3 separate regions of the Homo sapiens genome follow, and all the other regions are linked to region 1. Evidence: fine-mapped expression QTL. A gene starts in region 1. Each other region holds a variant in brackets. All regions are shown on one strand. Distances are from middle to middle. Region 1 holds the start of CDHR1 (cadherin related family member 1). Region 2 overlaps GHITM (growth hormone inducible transmembrane protein). Region 3 overlaps RGR (retinal G protein coupled receptor).

Evidence for each region. PIP is the estimated chance that this variant, and not a neighbour inherited with it, causes the effect.
Region 2: its variant is the best candidate, but not a certain one, in a credible set for the expression of CDHR1 in whole blood (TOPMed, PIP 0.84).
Region 3: its variant is the best candidate, but not a certain one, in a credible set for the expression of CDHR1 in spinal cord (GTEx, PIP 0.76).

What each region holds. Positions count from the first base shown.
Region 1 is chr10:84,192,425-84,196,646 of GRCh38, reverse strand. CDHR1 (cadherin related family member 1) reads right to left here and starts at 2,110. Exons shown (of 17, transcript NM_033100.4): 1 at 1,832-2,110; 2 at 1,058-1,153; 3 at 1-142. The coding sequence starts at 1,886. RefSeq lists silencers at 1,895-2,014, 2,085-2,214.
Region 2 is chr10:84,153,110-84,157,331 of GRCh38, reverse strand. It overlaps GHITM (growth hormone inducible transmembrane protein), which reads right to left. Exons shown (of 9, transcript NM_014394.3): 9 at 3,764-4,222. Among named protein-coding and RNA genes, the nearest start is that of GHITM, 16 kb to the right of the region's middle. RefSeq lists an enhancer at 1,507-2,020. The variant A/G (reference allele first, on the strand shown) is at 1,902.
Region 3 is chr10:84,257,056-84,261,277 of GRCh38, reverse strand. RGR (retinal G protein coupled receptor) reads right to left here. Exons shown (of 7, transcript NM_001012720.2): 6 at 3,272-3,385; 7 at 1,318-2,770. The coding sequence ends at 2,639. Among named protein-coding and RNA genes, the nearest start is that of RGR, 14 kb to the right of the region's middle. The variant G/CTG (reference allele first, on the strand shown) is at 1,945.

The DNA of each region.
Region 1 (4,222 bases):
CTGTCCAGCTCTTCAACCAGGGTGATGTTTCCAAAAGTGGGGTCAACAGAAAAGACGCTTCTAGTGCTGGGGTCAAAGCTGATGTGGTAGGAGATGGGGTCTCCCTCAGGGTCTGTCCCATTCAGGGTGTATACGTGAGAGCCTGGAAGGAAACACAGTGGAGAGACATAGAATCTGAGACCCAACTTTTCCTAAAAGTGGCAGATGCTCAGGACCAACGATTCAGCTGTTTATAAAGTGACTATTCAACTCAGTGCCAAAGGTACTGCCCTGAACTTGGTGCTCATTGCTGGCCTCACCCCTGCTGGCTGCTTCCCTCTTTGTATGTTTATTCTTCACAGCGGGTGGTTGTGATGATCAGCCACTTTCCAGATTGTAATCTATAACACGGGTTACAGAGCAGGTGCAGGTCTGCCGTGCCTAACTGTAGTGCCTATGTTCTGCTCAGCCTGGTAATAACTCCTCTCTCAGGATCCAAGATTGAGGGGCTCCTGGGTACAGGGAAGGGGAAATGGGAGCAGCCATTAAGGCAGGAGGGGTGACCCACAGTGCACCACTGTCCCCGATGCCTGGACCTGGTTCTGCAGGGATTTCTGAGCCAGGTGCCTACTTTGCTCTGCTCTCCCTTTTCCCCGGGTTCCCACTACCCACAAAGTGAGGGAGAAGGAGTGTGAAATCTCCCCTTTCTCCTCCCCTCTCTCTGCATATCTCAGCAAGTTGGATGTTCTTAGGCCGTTTTAAAGCCTAGAGACCTGGGGCTCAGGGAGGTAAATACATTTGTTCAAGGTCACACAGCCATAAGGGGCAGCTGTAGCTGCCTGCCTCGCGGGGCGACCCTGTCTGTGGGGGGGAGCCCTGGTCTCCAGGACTGGCCAGACTTAAGTCGCCATGGCAGCAATGACCTTCTTTCCTGCCATTGCCCAGGGGAATTCGGAGAGCAAACAAGGAGCCCCCGGGCGCGCGCAGCAACTTGGGTGGTGCCTGGGGCACTTTGTGTTCTAAGTCTGCCTGCACCCCTCAGGGAGACCTATCGGGAGCAGGTGCCAGGGCTACTCACCTACAGGGGTGTCCTCTGGGAGGCTGAACAGAGCCATGTTTCCGTTGGTGCTGCCGACCCCGTTGTCGAAGAAGTGCGGGGCGAAGTTGGCCTGAGCTGGAAAAAGAACACAGAACAGACGGACACCCAGGCAAAGGACACCCAGACACCAGGAGGGAGCTTCGCACCAGCGCGGTCCCGCGTCAGGCCCAGCTACTGGGCAGGAGGGCGCTCCGCCTCCCCAACCCAAGTGCACCGAGGGACCCCACTGGGGCGCCGCCCAGAGGATGCCCCTGACCCCCACTCCGCCCCCGGTGGGCTCGGGCTTGTCAGGGACACGTAGCATGTGGGCGCTTAGAACCCAGGTAGCAATCCAACCCCTCCTTCATCAATGGGCAGATTGCACCCGCGCTCGGAGAGGGGCAGTGCCCCAGCCCAGCCAAGGTCAAGCCGCGAGTCAGGGCACTATCTCCTGCCCCACGCAGCATCGGAGCTGCCACCAAGCCTACAGCTCTGGTTCCCAGCAAGCGGAGAGCAGCGGGGGTCCGGGCGCCAAACCCTGGGGCCCTAGGATGCCAGCTCTGGAGAAGCGCCCCGGAGCTCCCCACTACTCCGCTACCCCACTCCCCACTACCGAATGGGCCAGGAAGATGGAAGGACTTCTCCGCTCCCGTCCACCAGCCCGAGTCCCACTCTGGAAGTGGTCCAGGACCATGTCCCTCTGGCCACCTGGGTGACGCCAGCGCCCATCTCCCTCGCCATCCACGCGGCCAGCGCGGCCCAGCGGCCACTCACCCAAGCAGAGGCGCAGCAGCCCCAGGGCCAGGGCGGCCCACCGGCAGCGCCTCATGTCTCCGCCGGCGCGGAGTGTCGCCTGCCGCCGCCGAGACCGGGCGCAGGGGCACGGAGCATGCCCTGGGCCCGCGGGGAGGGCAGAGACCACAATGGGGGTAGCGGCGACTGCAGCCGCGGCGGGAGGGGGCACGGGGCGGGAGCGGCGGGTGGCGTGAGGGCGCTAAGAGGATGACACGGCTCGGATCTGCTCCTGCCGGCCGCCTGACGAGACCAATTAGCGGCGCAGAGCGGAGCGACAGGCTCCCAGCCGCGGGCGGGGGCAGGAGGGCGTGACAAGAGGACTCCCCGCCCGCCACGCCCCCTTTGCCGGCGGCCCCCAGTCCTGGACAGGAGGACACCATGGGGGACAGGAGTGTCTTTCCCCCAAGTTGTCCTGAGGCTTTCCCAGGGTACTTAAGTCCTGGTGGGGCTTGGGCTTCGCAGTTTTCTTTTCTCATCAACTTCCTCTGTGACTTTCAGGGGCTTAGCTGTCTTCTCTGAGCTAAGCATTCCAGAAGAAAAGTTAGTGGAGCGGCCGAGAGGGCCTTGCCTTAGCAGTCTAAGCAGGTTCTATAAGCCGCGTGAGACCAAAGGCAAAGAGAAAGGGTGATGGATGGGCAGCAGATGGTAAGGGGTTATCAGGACCCCCTCTCTGTGATCTCAACCCATTCCTGCCCTGTTCCCCAGGCTGGACCACCTCTCCCAAAGGGTCTGATCTGTGTGGTGGGCAGCAGGGAGGACCCTCAGGTGTCCACCAGGGTGAGAGGCAGTTCTGCTCCCCATTCCCAGTCAGTGCCCAGTCTGGGACCATGAAGGGGCAGCTGACCCACTCTTCAAACCTTCCAAGGAAGAGTGAAGGGCCTGAAGGCAGAGTTAAGCCCCATCTTAGGACAGACTTGCACAGAGCTGGCCAAGATAGATCTGAACTGCCCGAGAGGCACGAGATCTCATTCCTAGAGGGTATTTACACAAAGCAAGGCACTGCTATTGGGGTCCTGGATGCTGATAACTTGAAGACACAGGTAAGCCCAGGAACCTTTTTGGCTGCTGGTAAAGCTCCTTGGGCTTCCTCGTTCTCCTGCTCTGACACTGGAGGGTGCTTGGAAATGCAGCCTGTTTTCCTTTTCCTGGTTGGGCCATTTATGGGGGTACAGGTCACTTCAAGCCCAAGCCAGGCCACTTCCCAGGATGCCCTTGGGTGGATGTGTTCTCAGATAGAGGAGATCCCTCCTCTGTGTGCTCCTGGGAGAGGTCTCCACAGCTGAGGACTCAGCATTCCCCCCCTCCCCCTGCCAGGGGCCTTTGAGGGAACAGAGCACCCCCCATCCCTTGGTCTAGCCCTACATGATCTACTGTGAGCAAGGGTCAGGGATTTGCAGAGAAGAAGGAAGATGAATCAATGGTTTTAGAATGTGCAGCAGTTTTCAGGCCTAATTGGCCGAAACCCTTGTTGAGTCTCCTTAGGCTTGGCTCTTTTGCTGAAAAGACACACTTTAAATTGCACAGATGTTCTGAATCTGCCTCCCAAAGTGCTGGGACAAAGCTAAGGCAAGTATTCTGCAAGTCCCATATAGGGATGTGGAGACTGAGTCTTGCCGTGGATTTCCCAGGAGCCAGAGGCAGAGCCAAGGTTTCCTGGAGTAGATGTCTTGGTGGGCCGAGAAAAGCCAGCTCTCCCTGGGTCCTGTTAGCCCTGCTCCTCACCAATCTAGGGCCGTTGATTTCTCTCTCCTCAGTTCCCTCAGTCAACAGCCATGCACTGGAGAGGGAAGGGGAAGGAGTAGCCTACATGCCATGTGCTGTATGTGTGCTTATGTATATTTGCCCATATTATCTTATTTGACCTGCACTGCTCTCCCAATGTGATTTTCTCTGCTTTGCAGAGGAGGGAGATTTCCTCATTGGCTGTGTACGACCAAGCAAGTGACTTATTCTCTCTGAGGTGCAGAGCTTGGATTCACATACAGTTTGGGTTGGCTCCAAAGAAGGTTCAAACTCTTTTTTTTTTTGAGCTGGAGTCTCACTCGGTCACCCAGGCTGGAGTGCAATGGCGGATCTCAGCTCACTGCAACCTCTGTCTCCTAGGTTCAAGTGATTCTCCTGCCTCAGCCTTTCAAATATTGGCATTACAGGTGCACGCCACCATGCCCAGCAAATTTTTTTTCTTTTTTTTTTTTTTGGTAGAGACGGGGTTTCACCATGTTGGCCAGGCTAGTCTTGAACTCCTGACCTCAGGTGATCCACCCATCTTGGCCTCCCAAAGTGCTGGGATTACAGGCATGAGCCACTGTGCCCGCCTGGTTCAAACCCTTTTCATGGCAGAAGAAGATGATCTTGAATCTACTGAAGCTT
Region 2 (4,222 bases), 39 kb after region 1:
ACTCTGGGGACACAGGTGAGAAAATCCATGTCAGGCATATGGAGGGTTAACTTGGAGGAATGATGGCCCACTGACACCATACCTGTGGGTCATCATGCTGCTTTTACAAATTGCCCAGTGGAAAGCATAAATTGAATGTTTAAAAACTACTAAACTTGCGTATACGGTTGTGAGGAAAAACGTCCATTCAGTCCTGCCAGAACACATTAATTTTATCTCGAGTGTAGCCACGGGGATCCTCGCACTTCTACTATCTGTATCCAGTGAGGTTGCAACAACCTCACCATCCATCAAGCTCTCTGTAGAAGGTGGAAGGTTGAGAGAAGTCCCCTGAGGAAGAGTGACATTGCGCTGGGTGACTCAGTCTGACGCAAGCCACAAATGAGGCAGAACAGGATGCTGAGGCTGAGGGGAAGAGCTTGTGCAAGGCCTCCCCTCATGCTAACTGCGCAGCAGCCCATAAGATGCGGGCCATAATGGTCGTTATGATTCTCCTCCCCCACCAGTCTTTTATTTAGGTTCATTTTTGCTTGTGGCAAAAAATACTCTCTTCATGGTTCTCAGATGTTAATGAATTGAATGTTCACCGTCCATCTTCCTGAATTGCTTCACAAAAGAATCTTACTTTAAAGGTGGAAAGTCCTCAAGGTCATAGCTTTCTAATCTATTCCTGAAAAGTCATTTCCATTTTGTGCTAGTTAAAAATGGAATGCATTTAGGATTTCATCTTATTGATGAAATTGACCTTAAAAAATGGTCAATTTTGATTTGTAGCTCGGAGTGAACTGGGCAATACAAAAAAGGACTATTTTGTACCGTAAGAAATAGATGTGAGGAAGGCACGATGATTTCCAGTATCCTTCACTGAGGTCAATTTTTTTTTCACAGAAAACTAAAATGTTCCTGTTCTATTTCCTTTAATTTACTCAGAATACTGATTCCCAAGATTTTAAAAGTGACTTACACTTTAATAGAATCTCAACCTATTTAATTTGTATAGTGCTTTTGTGATTCTCAAGCAAAATTCTACTTCTTCAACTTTTACTTTGGATTCATGGAATACATGTGCAGGTTGTTACTTGTGTATACTGCGTGATGCTGAGGTTTGGAGTACCAATGATCCCATCACCCAGATACCGAGCACAGTGTCCAATAGGTTTTCAACCCTTGCCCCACTCCTTCCTCTAGGAATCCCAGGTATCTATTATTACCATCTTTATGTCCATGAGTAGCCAATGTTTAGTTCCCATTTGTGAGAACATGGGGCATTTGTTTTTTTGTTCCTGGGTTAATTTGTTGTTTGTAACAGGATGATGGCCTCCAGCTAACTCTATAAGGACAAGCTTGCTTTCTTTTATATGGCTGTGTCCTACACGATTTTAGATCTATCATCTATCCTCCCGGCATAATTGGTTAGGGAGTTTGTCTCATTATTCTTCCCAGCCATATGACCTTGTGCAAAGATCAAACTTTGGGCAAAGAGTTCAATTCAAACATCAGCTATTACTAGTGTAGCTGGGCCACCCTACCCCACTGGAATTATATGTCTTGGGTATCACTCAGTTTTAGTACCTTTAACCTGGACACGTTACCCAGATACAATTTCAAGGTAAACATGCCTGCCTGTCTTCCTAGTTTTTTTTTTTTTTTTTTGCCCAGCAGGAGTGCAGTGGCACAATCGCAGCTTCGAAATGCTAGACTTAAGCAATCCTCCTGAGTAGCTGGGACTACAGGCATGCGCCACTGCACCCTGCTGATTTTTAAATTTTTGGTAGAGATGGGTTTTTTTGTTGTGCAGAGTGGTCTTGAACTCCTGGGCTCAAGCAATCCTCCTGCCTCAGCCTCCCGAAGTGTTGGGATTACAGGCATGAGCCACCACGCCTGCAGGTTTTAACATGTTA[A/G]GCAAAGCACACACCCGCAGCAAGTGGGAAATCCAGCTTCAAGAGAATTTCCATTTCTTACCATCTTTTTCCACTTTGTCCATCTCTCCCTGCAGCCCTCCCCCATCAAGCATCCATTGTATGAAATGCCCATACTACCTTTTTCTGTGTGCTTTACCTACTATGCTTACTCTTGAAAATTTCCTCCTGGGCCATCTTAGAAACTTATTATTCAGTCTGCATTTCCATTTTGCTTACCTTTCTGTGACACTCATCCAATGGCCTATGGCCGTGTTTACACGGATTTGATATGCTTTAGAAGGCAATTACTTTTATTCATCATTGTCTCCCCTGGGCCCAGCTAGCATGGCACCTGTTACATAAAAAATTCATGTTTTCTGACTGTTCAGTAGATGCCATTTTAAGCAACAACTCAAAGGGCCTTTTTTCTCGGGATTATTTTAAAACATGTTTCATTTATCCTCTAGTATTTCAGACGATGTCAGAAAATGAAAAATGGACATTTACTTTTTTACCTAAAGCCTATCACTTTGCAGGTCATTACTCTTCGCTGTGAATGAGGAAAAAAAAAAACAAAAACTCTGTGGTATGTTAAGAGCCAAGAAACTAGTGATTTTTTTCTATTACCATTTACAACTGGTATGTTTTACAAACGATCACATTTTATATATCAGCTTACCTTTTATATGTTATTTATTTATTTATCTTTTTGAGACGGAGTCTTGCTCTGTTGCCAGGCTGGAGTGCAGTGGCGCGATCTTGGCTCACAGCAACCTCCGCCTCCTTGTCTCAAGCGATTCTCCCGCCTCAGCCTCTCAAGTACCTGGGACTACAGATGCACACCACCATGCCCAGCTAATTTTTGTATTTTTAGTAGAGACAGGGTTTCACCATGTTGGCCAGGATGGTCTCCATCTCTTGACCTCATGATCTGCCTGCCTCGGCCTCCCAAAGTGCTGGGATTACAGGCGTGAGCCACCGCACCCGGCCACATTTTATATATTATTTTGCATAGCCTTCATTGTCTTAGCAAAGTCAGAAGAAGTCCAATAACATAATGTCATTAAATTAACAACAACGACAACAACAACAACAAAACAACCCAGGATGGGGGCAGTGGCTCAAGCTAGTAATGCCGACACTTAGGAAGGCCAAGGTGAGTGGATTGTTTGAATCCAATTTAAGACCAAACTGAACCCCTCTATTTAAAAAAAAAGTAAAACAGTAAAAAAATCCTTGGTTTTCTAGATAAACTGCCTGATACCATCACTGAAATGATATCATTTTGTGTGTGATATTAATTTAAAAAAGACATAAACTTTGGGTTCTAAAAGGTGACTAAGGAAAACAGGCACTTTAAGATCACACTGATATGGGTATCAGGATGGGGAGAAGAAAAATAGAAAATTGGCATTTACATTTTTACTAATAAAAAAAAGCATCAATAGCTAAGACTTATGTAATGCTTACTAAGTGCCTGCACGTTTAACCATAAACCTATAAGACAGGTTCCAATATATTCATTTTACAGGAGAGGAAACTGGGCACACAGAGGTTAAGTAATTTGCCCAAGGTCACATAAGAAATAAGAGTTGAGATTCAAATAGAGGTAGTCTAGCTACAAGTATCATGTACTTATCACACTGCACTATACTATACTGGCAAGAAACTAAGTTGCTTTCTTGAAGAAATCCCTATTCAAATGGCATGCATATGATTCACTTGGAAAAATTAGACTAATCAACATCTGGCTGAAACCTTTGTTTCAGAAATAAGCCTCCTATGTACTTTGAGATGATTAACAGTATTTCTGCATTACTGTAATAAACATTTGTCAAAAAGAGCAATCACCTCAGTCATCATACAGACTTCTTTCCCTTCATTAAAGACTTCTAAATATAACTCTTCTGTATCAAAGAACTTACAAATGTCTCAAGAAAGTAATGGTGTAGCAGTGTAAGAGAAGTAAAAGTCTGCTAGGGGAAACTAATGAAGCATTTTCCTCATTACACTTTTGGGTTGATATATTTCATTAAGACAGAACTAGTTCTGTTTTGCTTTGCTTTTTAGTGCTTAGTCTGAGAGGCAATGCGAGAAACCAAAAGTCTTAGGAGAAAAACTGCTTTCATAATTTCCAGTGTAAGCCACAAAGAAGCTTTTCTATAAAGGCTTGAAAGCTTGAAGAGGTGACAAGAGCAAGCTGTATTCAATTAGACAGTTCAATAAATATGCAAAAATAAAAAAACACTTAGCAATCATGAGTATACTGTTTGTATTCTGGAAAAAGCAACATATTTCATGCTTTGAATATTTTCTCTTGA
Region 3 (4,222 bases), 65 kb before region 1:
AAGCAGCCTAACCAAACCACCTTCCTCCCTGCCTCTCCTCTGAGCACAGATGAGGACGCTGATGTGTTCGGCCTCGTCTCTTTCTCTTGGGGACTCGGGATGGCTCTTGTCACAAACCCAGAGGCCCACAGGATCAACAGGGGACACAGGCACTGAGGTTGACACAAGAGCATGTGTCCTGGGCAAAGGGCCGAGCTGCCCTGAGCTCTACAAACTGTAACAATGTAGGAAGGCAGCCGGGTAAAGCCTCATCTTCTGACATCTGGATTTAAATAAACTGTCCTGATTTTTAAATGTTGGCAACAAACCTCAAAACATTTTAAAGTAATGTGCAGGCCTAGCCCCGTATTACCAGAGGCTGTCTTTGACTGGCATGTACTGGTGGCTGATACTCCATGAGCACTTACCATGACAGGGAATGTTCTGGTCCTTTCTGTGTAGTCAAGTTGCCACTTCCATCATCTCACCTCCCAACTTGGGAAACGATGCACAGGCAGAGGAAGTGACGGGCAGCAGATCACGATTTAATACATGGTGTTTGAATGCTGGCAGCCTGGCTTGAGGTCCCATAAGCAAACCCTGGGGCTTTTACCCCTTTCTATGTAAGACTGAGTCCCTGCAAGGCATGGCCAAGACTTAACGAACAGCTCTGTTTTAATGAGTATTTTCTATGTGCTTAGTGAGTACATGTTATCTTCAAGCCTCACAACAACCCTGTGATGTCCATGTTAACATCCTTATGTTAAGGGTTAGAGGATTTAGAAGGAGTGATGTTAGGACACCTTTTCAATAAATGGTGCTGGGAAAATTAAATTGCCATATGCAGAAGAATGAAACTGGACCCATATCTCTTACCATATATAAAAATCAACTCAAGGATAGACACGGTGGCTCATGCCTGTAATCCCAGCACTTTGGGGGCCAAGGTGGGTGGATCACCTGAGGTCAGGAATTTGAGGACAGCCTGTTCAACATGGTGAAACCCTGTCTCTACTAAACCCCAAAAAATTAGCCAGACATAGTAGCGCATGCCTGTAATCCCAGCTACTTAGGAGGCTGAGGCATGAGAACTGCTTGAACCTGGGAGGCAAAGGTTGCAGTGAGCTATGATGGTGCTACTGTACTTCAGCCTGGGTGACAGAGCAGGACTCCGTCTTAAAAAAAAAAAAATCAACTCAAGATGGATTAAAGACTTAAGTGTAAGAATGGACACTATAAAAATCTTGGAAGAAAATCTAGGAAAAACTCTTCTGGGCATTGGTCTAGGCAAAGAATTCATGACAGAAACCTCAAAAGCACAAGCAACAAAACCAAAAATAGACAAATGGGACTTAATTAAACTAAAAAAGTTTCTGCACAGCAAAATAAACCATCAACAGAATGAACAACGTGCAGAACCGGAGAAAATATTTGCAAACCATGTATCCAGAATATATCCAGAATATATAAGACTATTATATATTATCCAGAATATATTATCCAGACTATTATCCAGAATATATAAGAAACTCAAATAACTCAACAAAAAAAATCCAAATAATGCCATTAAAAAGTGGGCAAAAGACATGAATAAACATTTTTTCAAAAAGAATACATACACGTGGCTAAGAAGCATATGAAAAAATGCTTAACATCAAAAGTCATCAGAGAAATGGAAATTAAAACCACAATGAGACCTTATCTCACACAAGTGAGAATGGCTATTATTAAAAAGTCAAAAAATTACAGATATTGGTAAGGATGCAGAGAAAAGGGAACACCTATACACTGTTGGTGGGACTGTAAATTAGTACAACCCCTATGGAAAACAGTATGGTGATTTCTCCATACTGTCTTAAAAATAGAGCTACCATTTGATCCAGCAGTCCTACTACTGGTATCTACCCAAAGGAAAAGAAATCAGTATATCAAAAAGAAACCTGCACTTGTATGCTTATCACAGCT[G/CTG]TTTACAGTAGCAAAGATATGGAATCTATCCATCAACAGATGATTGGATAAAGAAAACGTTACATATATATAACGTTTATATATGTATATGGAATGGAATACTACACTGCCATAAAAAAGAACGAGATCATGTCTTTTGCAGCAACATGGATGAAACTGGAGGTCATTATTTTAAGTGAAATAACTCAAAAACAGAAAGTCAAATACCACATGTTCTCACTTGTAAGTGGGAGCTAAATAATGTGTACACGTGGACATGGAGTGTGGAATAATAGACATTGGAGACTCAGAAGGGTGACAAGGTGGGAGGGGGTGAGGGATGAGAAATAACTTAATGGGTACAACGTATATTATTAGGGTGATGGTTACACTAAAAGCCCAGACTTCACCACTAGGCAATCTATCCATGTAACAAAACTGCACTGTACCCCCTTACATTTATTATTATTTTTAAAAAGGAATGACTTTCCTGAGGCCTCTCAGCCTTGAGTGTAGGGGGCTGTGACCGACACTCAGGTCCATCTGGCTCTTTCTGTGCAGCCTGGTGTCTTTCTGAATCCTGTGTCCAGCCTAGGACCAGGATCCACGGGGCCACTGGGGAAGGTGGGTGAGTGTCTGGGCTTGGCCACTGAGGCTGCTGGGCAGGACTCCTGGAACAGCCTCCTGGCCTGGGGCTCACTCCAGGGTGGCAGGCTCACTTGGTTCGGTCCTTCTCCCTCTTCTGCGGTGAGAGGCACTGCCAGATTCCCCTGCAGACCATCTCATTGCCCAGGGCATAGTTGATGGCATTGATCGTGGGCACCATTTTGGCAATGAGGGCGGGCACCTGTTGTGGCAGAAAAGTCCAGAAAAGAAGCTTCAAAGCCACTGATCCTCTCTCTGGTCTCACCTGGTGACCCCGGTCACCCTCCACCTACAACTGCCAATCATTTAGTTCTGCAGCCTTGGAGGCTTCCCTGACTAGTTGGTGGAGATGCATGGCTCACGGAGTCCATGGAGCCATACTCTTGTCCAGACCCACCTGCTCCCAGCCTGGGGACTAATCTCAACCCCTGGTCACAGAGTCTTTATCTACACCATCTGGCTGGCTGTCCCTGTCATCTCACATGAGGTTTGGGCAATGTCAAGCAGCAGCCTGGTATGACTCAGAGACGAGGTGGGGGATTAGGGGGGCAAACTAATGCTCTATGCCTTGTGAGTATCCAAAGGAAGAAACACAGAAAGGAAGAGACTGACACAGAGGTCATAAATCCAGAAAGTGAGATGAGATGAGACAGAGAACAAAGATGGAGAGGGGTCTAGTTTTAGGTACTAGAAGTATCTGTACCATCTGCAGTTTGGGGGAGATGGAAGTCACGTCTGCGATGACTGCGTATAGATACAGGATGGCATAGGGGCCCCAGCCGAGCAGCAGCGTCCTTGCTGGCAGAGTGGTGTTTACCTGGGGAGAAATTGTCACAGGAGATGTCAGCTTGCTCCAGGTGGCCCACAGCCCTATGTGGCCAAGAAAACCAGGTCAGCACTCAGCAGGGCGGGGCAGCATGGACCAGGCTTCAGGAGGGGGCTGAGTCTGCAGGGGAACTTGGGACCAGATGGGCCTCTCTGTTGTTTAAGACTGTGTGACCTTAAGCCTTTTATTTAAACTTGCCTGACCTCAGCTGCTGTGTCTGTAAAATGGCCTGACAATACCCAACGTGGCTGGAGGCCGAGACTGGGTGGATAATGAGCGCTTCCTCCTGGGTCTGTACTCTTTGTTTGTCAAATACAGAAGGGGTCTCACTATGTTTCCTAGGCTGGTCTCGAACTCCTGGGTTCAAGGGATTCTCCTGCCTCGGCCTCCCAACGTGCTGGGATTACAAGCATGAGCCACTGTGCCTGGCCTGCGTCTGTGCTCTTTAAGAGGAATCCTGGGCTCTGTGACTGCGTGCTCAAGGGGCCCCAGGCTGAGCTGCCCTCAGGCCTCAGTCCTAGAACCAACTCGTCATCCACAGCTACAGCCACCCGGCGAGACCACCCTGTCTGGGCTCCCAATGTGAAATACAATCAGCGGGGGAGGGGCTTGTCCAGAGAGCGGGAGATGCTGGGGTGCCGCCTGGGGCCATGAGGGGGCGCAAGACTCGCGCTTTAATTTCAGCGGGAGCTGCCAAGTTCCAGCCCCGCACAAACACGCGGACGTGCAATTCTGACGCTCAAGTTCTTGCCTGTTTTCTCCCTGACCTGACTTTCTTTAACAAAGAGGGTGATTAAGCTGGAAGAGGGCATATTTTCTTCCATCTTG